Homo sapiens: one gene and its partner. The gene in region 2 interacts genetically with the main gene of each other region. Each region holds a gene or a part of one and is shown on either strand. Other genes may lie near its edges.

Region 1 (7,262 bases), on a different chromosome or scaffold from region 2:
TTCTAGCTTATTCATCAGTCTCTTTAAAGTTCCTACAGAGATACAAATAAAGAATAGCTTTCTTTTTAATATTTCTTTTCTTTTTTGTTGTTGTTGTTCGAGACGGAGTCTTGCTCTGTTGCCCAGGTAGAGTGCAATGGCAAAATCTTGGCTCACTGCAACCTCTGCCTCCTGGGTTCAAGTGATTCTCCTGCCTCAGCCTCCTGAGTAGTTGGGACTACAGGCGTGCACCACTACACCCGGCTTATTTTTGTATTTTTAGTAGAGATGGGGTTTCACTGTGTTGGCCAGGCTGGTCTTGAACTCCTGACCTAGTGATCTGCCTGCCTTGGCCTCCCAAATTGCTGGGATTACAGGCATAGGCCACTGAGCCCAGCCTTAATATTTATTTTCTAATTACTTTTTTGTTGCCAGACTATGCTTCTTTATAAGAAGTTCAATGCAGAAATGGAACTAGGAGTTGTCCCAGAATTTTTTAGGCTTGCCCATATAACAAATATTCAGAATTTTGTGTGCATGTGCCATGGATTTCTATAGAAAATTTGCAAAATATATATATAGAGAGGGAGGGATTTTATTTCTTACCCCATGACCAACTTCTCATTTTTGAGACTTCCTTTTCCTCCCCTCACTCAAAGGAATGGAATTTCTGCCAATGATGCCTTTTCATTATACAAACATCTGTTGACTCTGCTGTGTGACAAGCAAATGTGGACCTAACCTTAATGGACCCAAATGCTAATGGGTGAGATGCACATCTAACAAAACCTGAAAATAATGGCTTTAGTGCTGAAATGGAAGTAGAGGCAAGGCACCAGTCATACTCACAGAAAAGGAAGCACCTGCCTAGTTTCCACGGCCAGGGAAGGCTTCTGAGAAAAGCTGAGTCCTAAAGGATAAGTAGGGGTTTACTAGCAGGCAAAATAGAGGAAGGGATAGGGCATTTCTGGCAACAGAAATAGCATGTGCCAAGATGCAGGGAGAAAGCAGCACAGTCCCATCAGGAACCTGTTGTGAAGGTTGTAGGATATAAGGCTGCGACAGGCCCTAAGGTGAGAATGTGGACAGGTGACATCACAGAAGGCTTTGTATGCCATGCAGAGGAATTAAGGCATATATCCTGTAAGCAACCTGGAGGGGAAGATACTGAAGAATTATAGTAGGAAAGTGACTTGATCAACTCTCCATCTCAGCAATGTACTTCTGATGGGGATGGCTTCGAAGAGAGACTGGAGGTAGGAGGACAAAGTAGAAAGTATTGTAATTGCACAGAAAAAACCAAAGCATTTGTAAAATAAGACAGTGGCAAGAGGAAGAGAGAGGAGGGGTTTGGGCAAGGAGATAGTTTGGTGGTGAGAAGGAAAGGAAGAGGAACTTTAAATCAGATTGGGATAACAAAGATAAAAGGTTTTGGGATTATTCTTATATTCCTGATGTGGGCAACTGGTTTGTATTCCTCATTAAATGAAATGGAGAATATAGAAAGAGGAACAGGCTTTGGATGAAGGTATAGTACATAATTTGGGGATTATTAAACATAACTCCAAGGAACATCCAGCTAGAAAGCTCAATAACATAGGAGAGACATCAGGCCAAAATTATGTCCTCCTCATTACCCAACCTCCGCTACCAGTAGATGTAAGAAATACAAGGTATTAATGCCTGCAAATAGGCCATGCATGAATGTTAGAGTATTTTACAGACTTTGTTTTACCCAGTGATAAAATGTACTGGGATAGGCTCATGGTTAGCAATTGATGCATAAACTATTAATGGCGAGATGTCATTTTCCTAAGAAATTAACACTTTGCAAACTTGGTATGCAAACTTGTGTTAAGAGCTCTAAACTGGATTAATCTATCCTGGCCAAGCTATACCCCCACACTTTACTTTTCTCTCCTGAAAAAGAGGCTATTAGGACCAGTTGAAAAGCAATGAGGTATTAATGAAAGAGAGGTCTTAAAATCTAGTTTTTAGCTTTGTATAGAGTTTTGTTGGCACCTCCCAACACTGGCGATTAACCTACTGTGAGTTTTATAAGGGCCAGAGATGGAAGAACTAATTAAAAGGCAGCAGGCAAAATTCCTAGAGATTTTATTGTTTGAAAGAGGTTTTCCTATATAGGCTTAAGTATAAATACCAACCTATATAGGCTTAAATATAAATACCAACCATCGGAGGATGGTTGAGAGAGAGTTAGAAACAAAAAGACACAAAAAATTACTGTACTTGAATCTAGAGTTTATGCCAGAACCTACTTGTCTAAAATTAACCATAGTCTTGTTTCCAACCATTAATAACATGCTTCTCATTTTTCTTAGACTTGGCATCATGCATATTTAAATTTACATTTAAAAGTTCCTGGTAACCTTTGGCACAAGGGTTCCTGGTTTGGAGATAACTCACATGTTGGTGGATTCATGCCCAATCCCTCTCACTACTGCATTTCTATCTGCTGGTGGATCAAAGCTAGTTGCTCATTTTCAATCTTAAATCAATCCATTTTGTAATTTTCAGGTGTGAGTGAGTTGACATCAGGGTCCTTTTTGATGAAAGATTTCCTTGAAAAAATAAGCAAACTGTTCAAATCAAAACAAAGGGTGTTTTGGGACTGTCTCAGAACATTTCATAGAAATTAAATTCTGTACCTTCTAGGTTAACGTGCTGTGGTCCTCACGATGTGTTTGGAAGGCTCAACTGGAGAGTTATTCTCCATCAGTCCTAGATTTCTAACATTTCCTGTTAGTTTACTTGCTGGAGGATTAAGGCAAAACTGGATTAAAAAGGAGGAGTTGGGGAATTAACTGTTTCCTGGCAAGATTAGCTTTCCAGGCACTGATTCCTGAGAAGAGGTGTTTTTTGTTGTTGTTGTTTTTGTTTTTAACTCCATAATGTTGCCTGGACACTAGAACAGGATTCCCCTTCCCCCATCTCATGTTTAATCTGTAGCTTCCCCAAAGTACCTTGTGTTAGTACTAGGGGGAGAATGACTCACACGTTGAATAAATTGTTATTAAAGCATCTGGGCTCAATTGTGAACATACTAATAGTGAGGAATTGGAAAACCAAGTACTGGTGAGGGTTCGGCTGCTGACTGGCGAAATCACTTGCTGAATGTGAGGCCCAACATCCTCTAAAAATAATAAGAGTTAATATGTGCCGAATACGTCCTATATCCCCAGAACTATTATTAGCACCTTGTATACCATCTCATTTAATCCTCATATTTCCAATGTAGAGCATGACTATCATCAACTATGTTTTGCAGATGAGGAAACTGAGGCACATAGATGTTAAATAATTTGCCCAAGTTCATACAGTCATTAATGGCAATTTGGATTGAAATTCTGGCAGACAGAGACAGCTTGCAGGCTCTACCCTGGTGGGTTCTACGATATTACCTCCTAAGATGAAGGGAAGGGACTGGAGGATCATGAGGGTCCTTCAGCCCTACTAGTGTGTGTGGAATGGGGAGAGGAGTATTCAGTTTCTCTGTTGGGAATGTGCAGCATTCAGCACCACCTCATTCCTTCCCATCTATGAGAATCTTTTGGGAATAGTCCTCACTATTAGGCCTATAGGTAGCATTGCCAACTTGGTTTAGTTCCCGTGCCCCATAAGAATACTTATCAGGGCCATTCTTTTCTGAGCATGTGGGTTAAGTAAGATCTCAGTGGTAGTGGGACCTTGGAGAAATGAAGCCTCTGAAATGTTGGCCACAGAGAAAAATGCTGCAGTGAGAAGCTGCAAGCTGCAAGCTGCAAGCTCCCAGCTAGCTGGCTTGATGGGGACCACAGTAAATCAGGAGGAACAGTGGAGGCTGGTGTGGGATCTCGGGGGCCAGAACCTGGCCAGGGGATGTTGACCCAAAAAAAAACAGCAGCAGCAGTAGAAACAACAACAGCAAGAACAACAATAGCAACAAGCCAGGTTCAGGCTAAAAAAGCAGGCAGTGTGCCAGGAAGGGGGCCGACTGAGCAGTGTGTGGAAGCTGTCGTGGAGGTGACCGTGGGGGGATGAGAAAAGGGGAAGGAAGGAACAGACAGCACCAGAGGGACTTGAACAAAGGGAGAAGGGGGATTAAAGTCAAATCACTGTCAGCAGCCCAGGAGCAGACAAAACCACCAGAGTAAGCCCTGAAATGGAAATGAGAGGGAAAAGAAGCAAGCCGCTAACAGCTACCAAGAAGAGGAGGAAGTGGGAGATGCGCTGCTTCCTGTAGAAAGAACGTTGATTGAAGACAAAGCTGGGTGGGGACTAGTCCCTGGGCTGCAGCCGCTGCTACACATACTCACAACGCTGCCGCCGCGCTCCGTGGGCAACTCCTACTACTGCTGGGCTGGGCTGGGCTGGGCTGGGCTGCGCCGGAGCTCGCCTGCACAGATCAGCTCCGGAGAGGGGAAAACCACGCTCCTCGGACCAAGCCTCGGGAGCTAAGGTAAATGAAACGTTTTCCATGTTGCTCGTTTTTAATTGAGAAAAACGACCGTCGCTTGTGGTTTTAAGGTCCGATTTCTAAGGGATGATAGAGACATCGCTTCAGGACTAGGGGAAATGATTAGATTCTTTTGGAAGGGTCTTTGAGAATAACCACATTTATGACACATTTGATTTAAAAAAACCTCATCATCAGTGCTTAGATTTGATGACTAAACAGGCCAACATGCTAAATACAAGAAGCTGTTTGTATAGTTCTCTCGGAGGAAAACCAGGGCTGAGTCGAAATCCATCTGGGGCTGTGAAGCTGTGGTCTGGTCATCGGAGCCCGGCAGTCCCCTTGTTTTAGGGGAGTGAGTGGTGTAAAATATTAATTGCATTCTCTTTCTTACACATTGCACTGGGATATCTTCTGTTTTGCAAAAATAATGGCTGTGATTTGGCTTTTGGGGGAGTTAAATTCTTTTGTACTTAGATTTTGCCAACAAAGGCTTGAATTGCGTATGTGAGGGGCAGTATTTACCATTAAAAAACAGTGTCTTCCTCCCTCAGCTTGTGCAGCTGCTTTCAGGATAACCTCAGACACAGCTATCATTTGCCAGTAGGTCTTATCCTAAAGTTGCATCCTTGTTCAAAGGAGCGTGGCGGGTTTAAGGCCAGTAACTTGTCCAGAATCAGATACTAGCATATGCATGGATTTTATGTTTATATGCATTTTATTCACCTCTAGGTCAAGGTGCATGTTAGCCTCGGTGAGGGACAAAATAAAAAAGTGCAGCTGGGTTGTTTCCTTACGCGAATATCTGGTAGATAGACTGAAGTAGTAAAACCAGAACATGATTTTTATTCTTTGATTTTCTTGAGCAAAGGATGTTCTTAATGAGAGCCTGGGTCTATGACTTGTTCATATTTATGAATGATATGTAAAAGTACACTAAATAGGTCTAGCAGATGAGAACTGAGATTGTGAGATTCCTCTGACAGGATATATTAGGGAGTTTAATACCCTCATGCAGCACGATTTAAAGAATTAAGCTTTTTTAATCTTCAACAGAAAGTACAGTTAAGCAGTAAGTAGTCATTGATAAAAGGGTTTTTCTTCTAGAGTTTCTATAATGAAAGGAGATAATTTTTCAAAAGAAAGAGAAAAAACTGCTTATAGTGGAGTAAAAATTTAAAAAAAGTCAATATTTTGACACTCACAGATTCTTGAAACATAGGTTCTTAGATACCAAATATGCTAGTTGAGAGTGTATGTATGTATATGCCTCCTCCTTTATCATCGTTCTCACTTGTTAAGAGCTATAGGGCTATTTTTAATGCTATCTTTATGAAATCGATATGGCTTCTCAAAATCTGTGGAGTAGCAGCACATTTTGAGAGATGGGAAGCTTTTATAGCTACTAAAGAAAAAAAAAGTCTATTTCTCAGAGGTTTTTTGCTCATTAAAGTAAACCTGCACCATGCCTAAGAGACAAAGTACTGCTAGTATTGAAACCATGGAACTCCTTGAAGGATTCACTGAATTTAATCAAACTTGTGGGCAAAACAAGTCGTGACATGGATTTTGCAGTTCCACTTCCTATTTGCATCTTAAAGGGAAGTATGTAAAGATCATCTTCTTAGAGAAGAGACCTAGGATAGATCTTCGATCCAGAATGACCCAGTGGAGTTCTAGAATCAAGCTGTGCATCATGAAATGAAGTAAAAAGTTGGCAACCTGAGCTGCATGGATAAGGACAGGCTTACCCTTTGGTACTTACTCCTCTGCAGGCTGTATTCACTAGATAATGCCAACACCCTACTTTGTTTGGGGAGGCACAGACAATCTGCATTAGTCTTCTGTGTGTGTTTCACACATGAGTAAGAAAATGAAACCTTGCCCGACGGGCATAGTAGAGTCAAGAGGGCCTTGCTATCTTTCTGAAAACAACTAAGAGGTGCCTATTTTCTGCACAGCACAAAACATTTCTTAATCGTTAAATTCCAGCTTGAAGCAGAACATTAGTGAGTAACAGCAGATCAGTAACTATGATGGTAGAATGTTTAGGAAAAAGATGAATATGCTTCTACATTGTAAAATGAAACTATTTCCACTTATTCTGGCCATATGGAATATTGAAAGACTTAATGATTTTTCCTGGGGTATTCACTGGCTTTTGAGGAGTAGACCAACACAGAAATTTTAATTGTGCTTTTTTTTTTTTTTTCTGCCATATGGCCAATGGCTGAATGGAAACATGACTCCATTATTTCATTGCCAGCCTTGGGCCTCATATGGTGGACATGTAGTGAATGTGTTTGTTTGACTGACTTTGTTTAGCCTGCTTCAGAAAGCAGGCCCAACTTTTAAGTCTAAAAGCTGTATAGTCAAAGTAGAAAGCCTGTTCATAAAAGACTTCTGTGGGTAGGAGAAAACACTGTGGAGTGAAAAGAACGCAGGCTTTGGAGCCAGGCAGATCTGCCTTTGAAACCTATTACTGGTTCTTACTACTTACCTTGGTACATTAACTTAGGAACCTCAGTTTCCTCATTGTAAAGAAGGGCTAGTAATACATAATCAAAGTTGTTGTTTTGCTTTGTTTTTGCTTTTGTGTGCGGATAAGTGAGTGATTTCTACATAGAAGGTACTGAAATGTTATTTTTTTCTTCCTTGGTGGCATAAGGAAAAGTTAGCATATTCTTGGTCTTTACCACTGCCTCACAGGTTTAGGGAGACTTTTTTTATAGTGATAAAATATACATAACATAACATTTCCCATTTTAACTATTTTTTTAAGTATGCAGTTCTGTGGTAGCGAGTACATTGATGTGCTGTCATCACC
Region 2 (7,024 bases):
TTCTCCACTTAACTGGGGGTGGGAGGGACTCAGGAATTGGGCAGCAGGCCTGTTGAAAATCATAGGAAAGGCTGGGCGCGGTGGCTCATGCTTGTAATCCCAGCACTTTGGGAGGCCGAGGTGGGCGGCTCACAAGGTTAGGAGTTCGAGACCAGCCTGGCCAATATGGTGAAACCCCGTCTCTACTAAAAATACAAAAATTAGCCAGGCATGGTGGTGCACGCCTGTAGTCCCAGCTACTCGGGAAGCTGAGGCAGAAGAATCGCTTGAACCCAGGAGGCAGAGGTTGCAGTGAGCCGAGGTCGTGCCACTGCATTCCAGCCTGGGTGACAGAGCGAGATTCCATCTTAAAAAAAAAAAAATCGTGCGAAAGTATTTTTCAACAAGCTCATTTAAGGGTCATGTAGAAGGTAATTTTGTTTAACTATCTGTCATTAATTAGGGCTTAGGTTCTTTAAAATTGAAGGTTAACTGGTGGATGTGAGATAAGTTGCAAGAGATTTTTGTTCAATAGAAAAGATAACCTCAAAGGTTATGGTTTTATTCCCCTCTGTGATGTTAACTATTTGGTATCTAACTTTGAGTCTTACTCTAGCTTCCATGAGGAGCTCATCTCAGTTTCTTGGATCCTCCTTTAAGCCAGCTCTATCATCGTGCTGGTTTCCTCATTAATGAGCGGGCACAGGCTCACTGTATATTTACGTATGTGTGAGGTTTTGGAACTGTTTGAAAATGATTCCCCGAAACGAGGGAGAGTTGATGGTTTCCTATTTTGGTTCTGCTTTCCCTGGAAGAGGAGAGGTTCCTGCCATGGGTACTTGGCTTGAGCTGCCCTCTTGGGGCATCTGACTTCTCCTTGGTCACCAGGATATCTGAAGCTTCACATGGTCCCGGGAAGGATGTGGAGGAAAAGGCCATCAGCAGTGAGTGATGGTTCCAAGAGTCCCCCCTGCTCTGAGGCCAAAGGACCCTCATTCTACTTCCGGCTCCAGCTGCTGCCCTGCCTGGCCCTTGTGCTGCAGGCTTCACATGTTATCATTCCAGGGCCAGGGCCTCACCACCGCCAGCACCTCCGTGGCACATCTGCTTTCTGTGCTGCCCAGAACGGAGTTTCTACCCAGCCGCCTGCAAAAATATCTCAAGGCATAGCGTGCATTGAGCTGAGGAGGGACAGCCGGTTCTACTTGAAACTGGGAAGTGGTCTCCCCACAGGTAATCCCCTCCCCCAACCCCACAACTCTCTTATCCTTTTCAAAATAAAAAAGAATCATTTCGGTCTTTGGTGGAAACCCAACGCCCTGCCAAGACATTTGCATTTTAAATTCTTTCTCTGAGCGTACTCGAAAGGAAGAAAGGCATTGCCTCCTAGCAAAGGAACTTCAGTCACCAACCAGAAGCTCAGAAGGCATTCTGATCTGTTTGTTTTGGGGGACAGTGGGAGGGAGTGTGGGAGGGAATGAAGGAGTTTGACCTTAAACTGGCGTGTTCCTTTAGGGTTTGTTCCTTTAACTGGTTTGTTCCTTTCCTTGGGAAGCTGGGTTGGCAAACCCAGCTTTTACCTTTCAGAGTCCAGCGCCTCCTAAGGGTCTTCCTGATGTCCTAAATCTCCACCCAAGTCTCTACCATGAGGTGAGGACCTTGTTATAGGTAGACTTGGGGGTTGGCCATCCCTAGCTGTACTTGCTCTGCTCTTTGTAATGACAGACAGCTGACTGATGGGGGGGCAGGTAGATCAGCTGATTGGGCGAGGCACAGACAGGTCAGCTGACTGGGTGGGGCGCAGACAGATCAGGTAACTGGTTGGGTAGGAAAGTTATGAACACTTCCAAAGAAATTTACAAGCCAGTCTTGAGCTTTCTAGGGTCCATAAGTTGTTGGGGAATAAGATTTGGTACTTCTGTTCTGTGTGTGTTTAATGTGTAAGGTGAGAATTAAACGCTGCCAGTACTAAACAGGACCTGGTGCATGTATACATTAGAAAGAGAGAAAACAAAAATGGGATTATAACATACTTAGTATTGGGGGGACTGCTTTTTCGCTCAACTAGTTATTCAACATCTTTTGAGCTCAGTAACTATTTCTACAATATCATTTTTAATAATTGAATATCATTCCACCAAATGACTTTGCCGCAGTATACTCAACCATGTTCAATATTTAGGTTTTTTGGCATTGGTTGATTATTAGCAAGGATGCGTTGATGAACGTCTTTGTTTTGTAGCTACATCTTTGTACATCCATAGGGATTCATCAGGATAAAATTGAGGAATGGAATTGCTGGGTGAAAGGGTATGCTTTCTGATGCTTTAGCAAACACAGCCCCCCATTCCTCACCAGCGCTGGCATTTTTGTTCTTTCTTTTTAATTTTTGCCAATTTGATAGGGGGGGAAGAAGAGTCTTGCTCTTTAGTTTTGCATTTTCTTTATGAGTAGTGAGGGTGAATATTTTGGGGGGTTCTTTTTGATGTACTTGAATCATATTTATTCATATTTCCATAAGTGTATTTGCCTATTTCTTAATGGACTAAAAAAAAAACCTCTTCATGGGTTTGATATATTAATTTTTTTTTTTTTTTTTTTTTTTTTTAGATGGAGTCTCGCTTTGTCTGCAGGCTGGAGTGCAATGGCACGATCTTGACTCACTGCAACCTCTGCCTCCCAGGTTCAAGCGATTCTCTGCCTCAGCCTCCCGAGTAGCTGGGACTACAGGTGTATGCCACCACGCCCAAATAATTTTTGTATTTTTAGTAGAGACGGGTTTCACCATGTTGGCCAGGATGGTCTCGATCTCCAGACCTCATGATCTGCCCACCTCGGCCTCCCAAAATGCTGGGATTACAGGTCTGAGCCACAGCACTTGGCCTGATATATTAATTTTTATTGCAAATATTTTTCTCAGTTTGTCATTTACCTTTCACTCAAAGTGGGCTTGCCATATGAAAAGCTTTAAATTTTATGCTTTCATATCTGTTAGTCTTTTCCTTTATAATTTTTGCCCTGGGGAATATGTTTGGCAGCTCTTCTCCACTCCAGGCTAATACAACCTATTTTTCTTCTGTAGTTTTTGTGGTCTTGTCTTCTACACCTAAACCTTTAATGTATCTAAAAGTTATTTTTATGTTTGCATTAGAACTCTTAATTTTATTTTTTAGATAGAATTTTTTTTTTTTTTTGAGACAGAGTTTCGCTCTTGTTGCCCAGGCTGGAGTGCAATGGTGTGATCTCGGAGGCACTTGAACCTCCACCTCCTGGGTTCAAGTGATTCTCCTGCCTCAGCCTCCTGAGTAGCTGGGATTACAGGCTCATGCCACCACACTCAGCTAATTTTCTATTTTTAGTAGAGATGGGGTTTCACCATATTGGTCAGGCTGGTCTCGAACTCCTGACCTCAGGTGATCTGCCCGCCTTGGCGTCCCAAAGTGCTGGGATTACAGGCATGAGCCACCACACCTGGCCTTTTTAGATAGTCTTCTAACTCAATATTTTTTATGGTCTACCAATTATCCTGATATCATCTATGAAATGACTGATTTTTTCATCAGTAATTTGAGGATGCCACTTTGTCATATAATATAATTTTGTATATTTAATATATTTCTAGATATTACATCTTCTTCCATTATCTATCTATTCTTATACCCATAGTGTACTATTTTAATAACTATAGCCCTATAGTACCTTCAAAAAATGGAAATATTTCCTTCTTACTCTCCTTTAAAAATACATGAATGAATATATACTAAGTGCATAAATAAATCTTTCAAATAGATTTTTTTATTTTCTTTATATATAAATTTATTTATTTGTAAAATATTTATATATTATGTTTTTTAGTTTACATATATTTTATAAATTTTAAAAATATCTTGGTATTTTGATTGTGGTTACGTTTACTTTCCTAACACCTGGTCTCGTTACAATATTGATTCAACCCAGCAATACGATTCTTCAATTATTCATTCTTCAGCAAAGTTTGTTTTCTCTATATAGGTTATTAAAATTTCTTTTATTTTTTATTTTTAATTGCTATTGTAAATTTTTTAAAATTATGTTTTCTCACTGGTTAATGCTGGTTTATAAAAAAAGCTCTTAGCTACCTGTTTTCTAGTTCTGACAATTCTTTGTTCAGGGGATTCTCTCAGTCTCGACAGAAAACCAATTGTTTGAGCTCCAACTAATTAAAATTTCTCTTCTTCAGAAGAGAAAGTATTCTTTATTTTTGTCTTTTTGCATAGGCAAATACCTATAAGCCAAAAGAGGAAGATTATTGGCTCTAAAGAACATGCCTCTAGTATTTTACCTTGGGCTGTTGCCATATTAAAAGCACTTCTAGAGTAATCGTTTCCATATATTGAGGGGTTTTGAATATCAGGAATGATGATGAATTTTATGAAATATTTTAGAGGCATCTATTGAGATGCTTTTGCGAATTTATTCCTTTGAGTACTGATTCGCTGAGCCGCTTCTCAGTAAATCACACTTGCTAAGTTTTCTCCTGCACTACTGTAGCTTCCTTAGACCTGATTTGCATGTCTATGACAGCACCTGCAATTTCTGAAGAATTCTTACTTTTCAGACCCCACACATGAAAACTGAGTCCCGGGTCTTGTCCACATTTGTCACAGTGGTCATTGTTCCTAGTACCAGCCACCTTCCCCAACCCAAACTGCATCAACCCACACACACAATTACCTACTTGTTCCTGGGGCACAGAGAACATGCAAAGCCCTCTTGTCAGCATCCTGGGGGCTTCTCTGTCTGATCTGGGTAGCCTTGGAGACCCCTTGACTAACCAGATCAGAGGCACAGGCCAAGGTGGGGTCTCCTTGCCCTGAGTGCCTGCTCCTACTTCCCCTAACAATCCCTCCTCGAGTTACCTCCCATATTTACTTTCATCTTGTGTGGATTCAACCATCAGATGCTTGATGGTGCTGTGAAGAGGAGACTCCATGTTTGTGAACCAAGGCGTTGGCAGAGATGAATCAAAGGATGCAAGGTAAGGAGGGTCACAAAAAACAGTTTCAGAGGAGTTGGAAGCATTCTGACCTTCTGAGCCCTGTCCCCCGTGCCAGCTGCCTCAGTGCTTACCTGGGGCCTTGAGTTCAGCATCAATGAAGGTGAGCAGCTCCTGGCAGATGCTGCAGTAAGGAACAGGCCAGGTCAGGAACCGGTGGTAGGTGCTGGCTGCCTTCAGAAGGAGATCCGAGTCTGGTGGGAAGTGTGGTGTCTAGGATGGAGGCAGGCAACAAGCAAAGAGATCTAGGTGAGAAAAGGCTCAGATAGTCCCAGACAGCTTCTGCTCCCTTTCTGGAATATTCCACAAAAGACACACATTTCCTGGCCGCAGCGTGTCCCAGGACAAGGTCAGGTGGAACTGGAAGTTACTCACAGGGAGTGGGTTACAGATGGGCAAGATGGCACCCAGGGTGTCTCTACTGGGAGGGACTTGCTTTACCCAATGCTTGAGTGAGCCTCTCTGAAAGGCTGTCCCCTTACTGGTAAATGGTGCCATTGCTGACACTTGTTATGGATAATGGTCTTCAATGCCTAAACCACCTTTACTTAAATAGCCTCATTACAGGTAAATGTTTATTTTTTGAGGATGGATTCAGTCAGTGTACACATTTGATGCCCCCCTGTCTGGTGAATACAGGGGGTGATCACATTGGGTGAAACCGACTACTGGGGTGAAAAATGAGGTGGACATAGAATATCTCTTGTGGCCTGTGAACAGACAGTGACAGCAGTTCCAACATGGGAGCCCAGAGATGCCAGGCACCATGGCGGCCACATGGAGTCACCAGAAGCCTCTCATGGTGGCTGCTCTGAAGCCATCTAAGGGTTGAAACCCATTTCACATGCCGCTGCTTGACAGTTTCTCTCTCTGCTTATCTCCAGAGGTGTGAGGGCTCTGCCCCAGATAGAGGTCGCTCCTCCCCCTCCTCCCTCACCTCCAGCATCCTGGCCCACGTGGACTTACACAAAGAACAGTGGAATAGAAGAGCAGGGCCAGCGGGGTGAGCAGGTCGTAGGTGCCCTTCTCCTGGACCTGTGGAGAGGAGGAGAAGGGGAATGAGCCTCATTCACGGGGTCCAGGGCTCCCTGAGGCAGAATACAGTGGTTCTTCCTCATTCTAGCCTTTCTTTTTTTTTTTTTTTTAGGGGAAAATAGTGCAATCACATGACAAACATTTGGAAAATGGATGTAAACGAAAACACTTACAATTTCCCCTCCCAAACCCAACCACAGCTGTTTCAATGTCCCTCTTCTGATGCCATTTTTGCCCTATGTATTTTCTTTTCTTTGTTTTTAAATTTTATTTTAAGTTCTGGGATACATGTGCAGAACGGGCAGGTTTGTTACATAGGTATACATGTGCCATGGTGGTTTGCTGCACCCATCAACCTGTCATCTAGGTTTTAAGCCCCACATGCATTAGGTATTTGTCCTAATGCTCTCCCTCCCCTTGTCCCCCATCCCCGACAGGCCCCGGTGTGTGATGTCCCCTCCCTGTGTCCATGTGTTCTCATTGTTCAAATCCCACTTATGAGTGAGAACATGCGGTGTTTGGTTTTCTGTTCCTGTGTCTGCGAAGCTATAAGCTGTGTGTATATTTTTACTCCTAACGTATTTTACATATAGTATTATAAGTAAATTTCTGTTTTACTATACGGTCTCTAAGACCACCTTTTTTCCCTTCTGGTTATACATTTACCTGTTATTTGTGTTATAAATATTTTTTTCCAGTTGGTTGTTTGCCTTTTAATTTTATAAATATTTTTGATGTACAGAAATTACAGGTGTTGATTTTTCCTTCATGGATTTTTGCTTTTGCATGCAAGGATCATGTAAATATTCATATATACTTTCTTATCTTCTTTGAAGCTTCGTTTTCTGAAATTGAAATATTTAGTCTGGGCCCAGTGGCTCATGCTTGTAATCTCAACACTTTGGGAGGCCGAGGCAGGTGGATCACTTGAGGCCAGGAGTTCGAGACCAGCCTGACCAACATGGCAAAACCCCA

What was found. Genes that interact genetically often act in the same process or in processes that back each other up.
Region 1: of PIK3R5 (region 2) and GNG2, changing one enhances a phenotype caused by changing the other (phenotypic enhancement), as found in Homo sapiens cells (one study listed by BioGRID).

Annotation. Positions count from the first base shown.
Region 1 is NC_000014.9:51,856,353-51,863,614, forward strand, and holds the start of GNG2 (guanine nucleotide-binding protein G(I)/G(S)/G(O) subunit gamma-2 precursor), read left to right. Parts: upstream 1-4,259; 5' UTR 4,260-4,438; intron 4,439-4,971; exon of another isoform or gene 4,972-5,038; intron 5,039-7,262. UniProt on the Homo sapiens protein: Guanine nucleotide-binding proteins (G proteins) are involved as a modulator or transducer in various transmembrane signaling systems.
Region 2 is NC_000017.11:8,899,689-8,906,712, forward strand, and holds part of PIK3R5 (phosphoinositide 3-kinase regulatory subunit 5), read right to left. Parts: intron 6,895-7,024; exon of another isoform or gene 6,716-6,894; intron 6,050-6,715; coding exon 5,981-6,049; intron 5,228-5,980; coding exon 5,089-5,227; intron 2,629-5,088; exon of another isoform or gene 2,590-2,628; intron 1,630-2,589; exon of another isoform or gene 1,535-1,629; intron 1,213-1,534; exon of another isoform or gene 1,109-1,212; intron 1-1,108. UniProt on the Homo sapiens protein: Regulatory subunit of the PI3K gamma complex. Required for recruitment of the catalytic subunit to the plasma membrane via interaction with beta-gamma G protein dimers. Required for G protein-mediated activation of PIK3CG.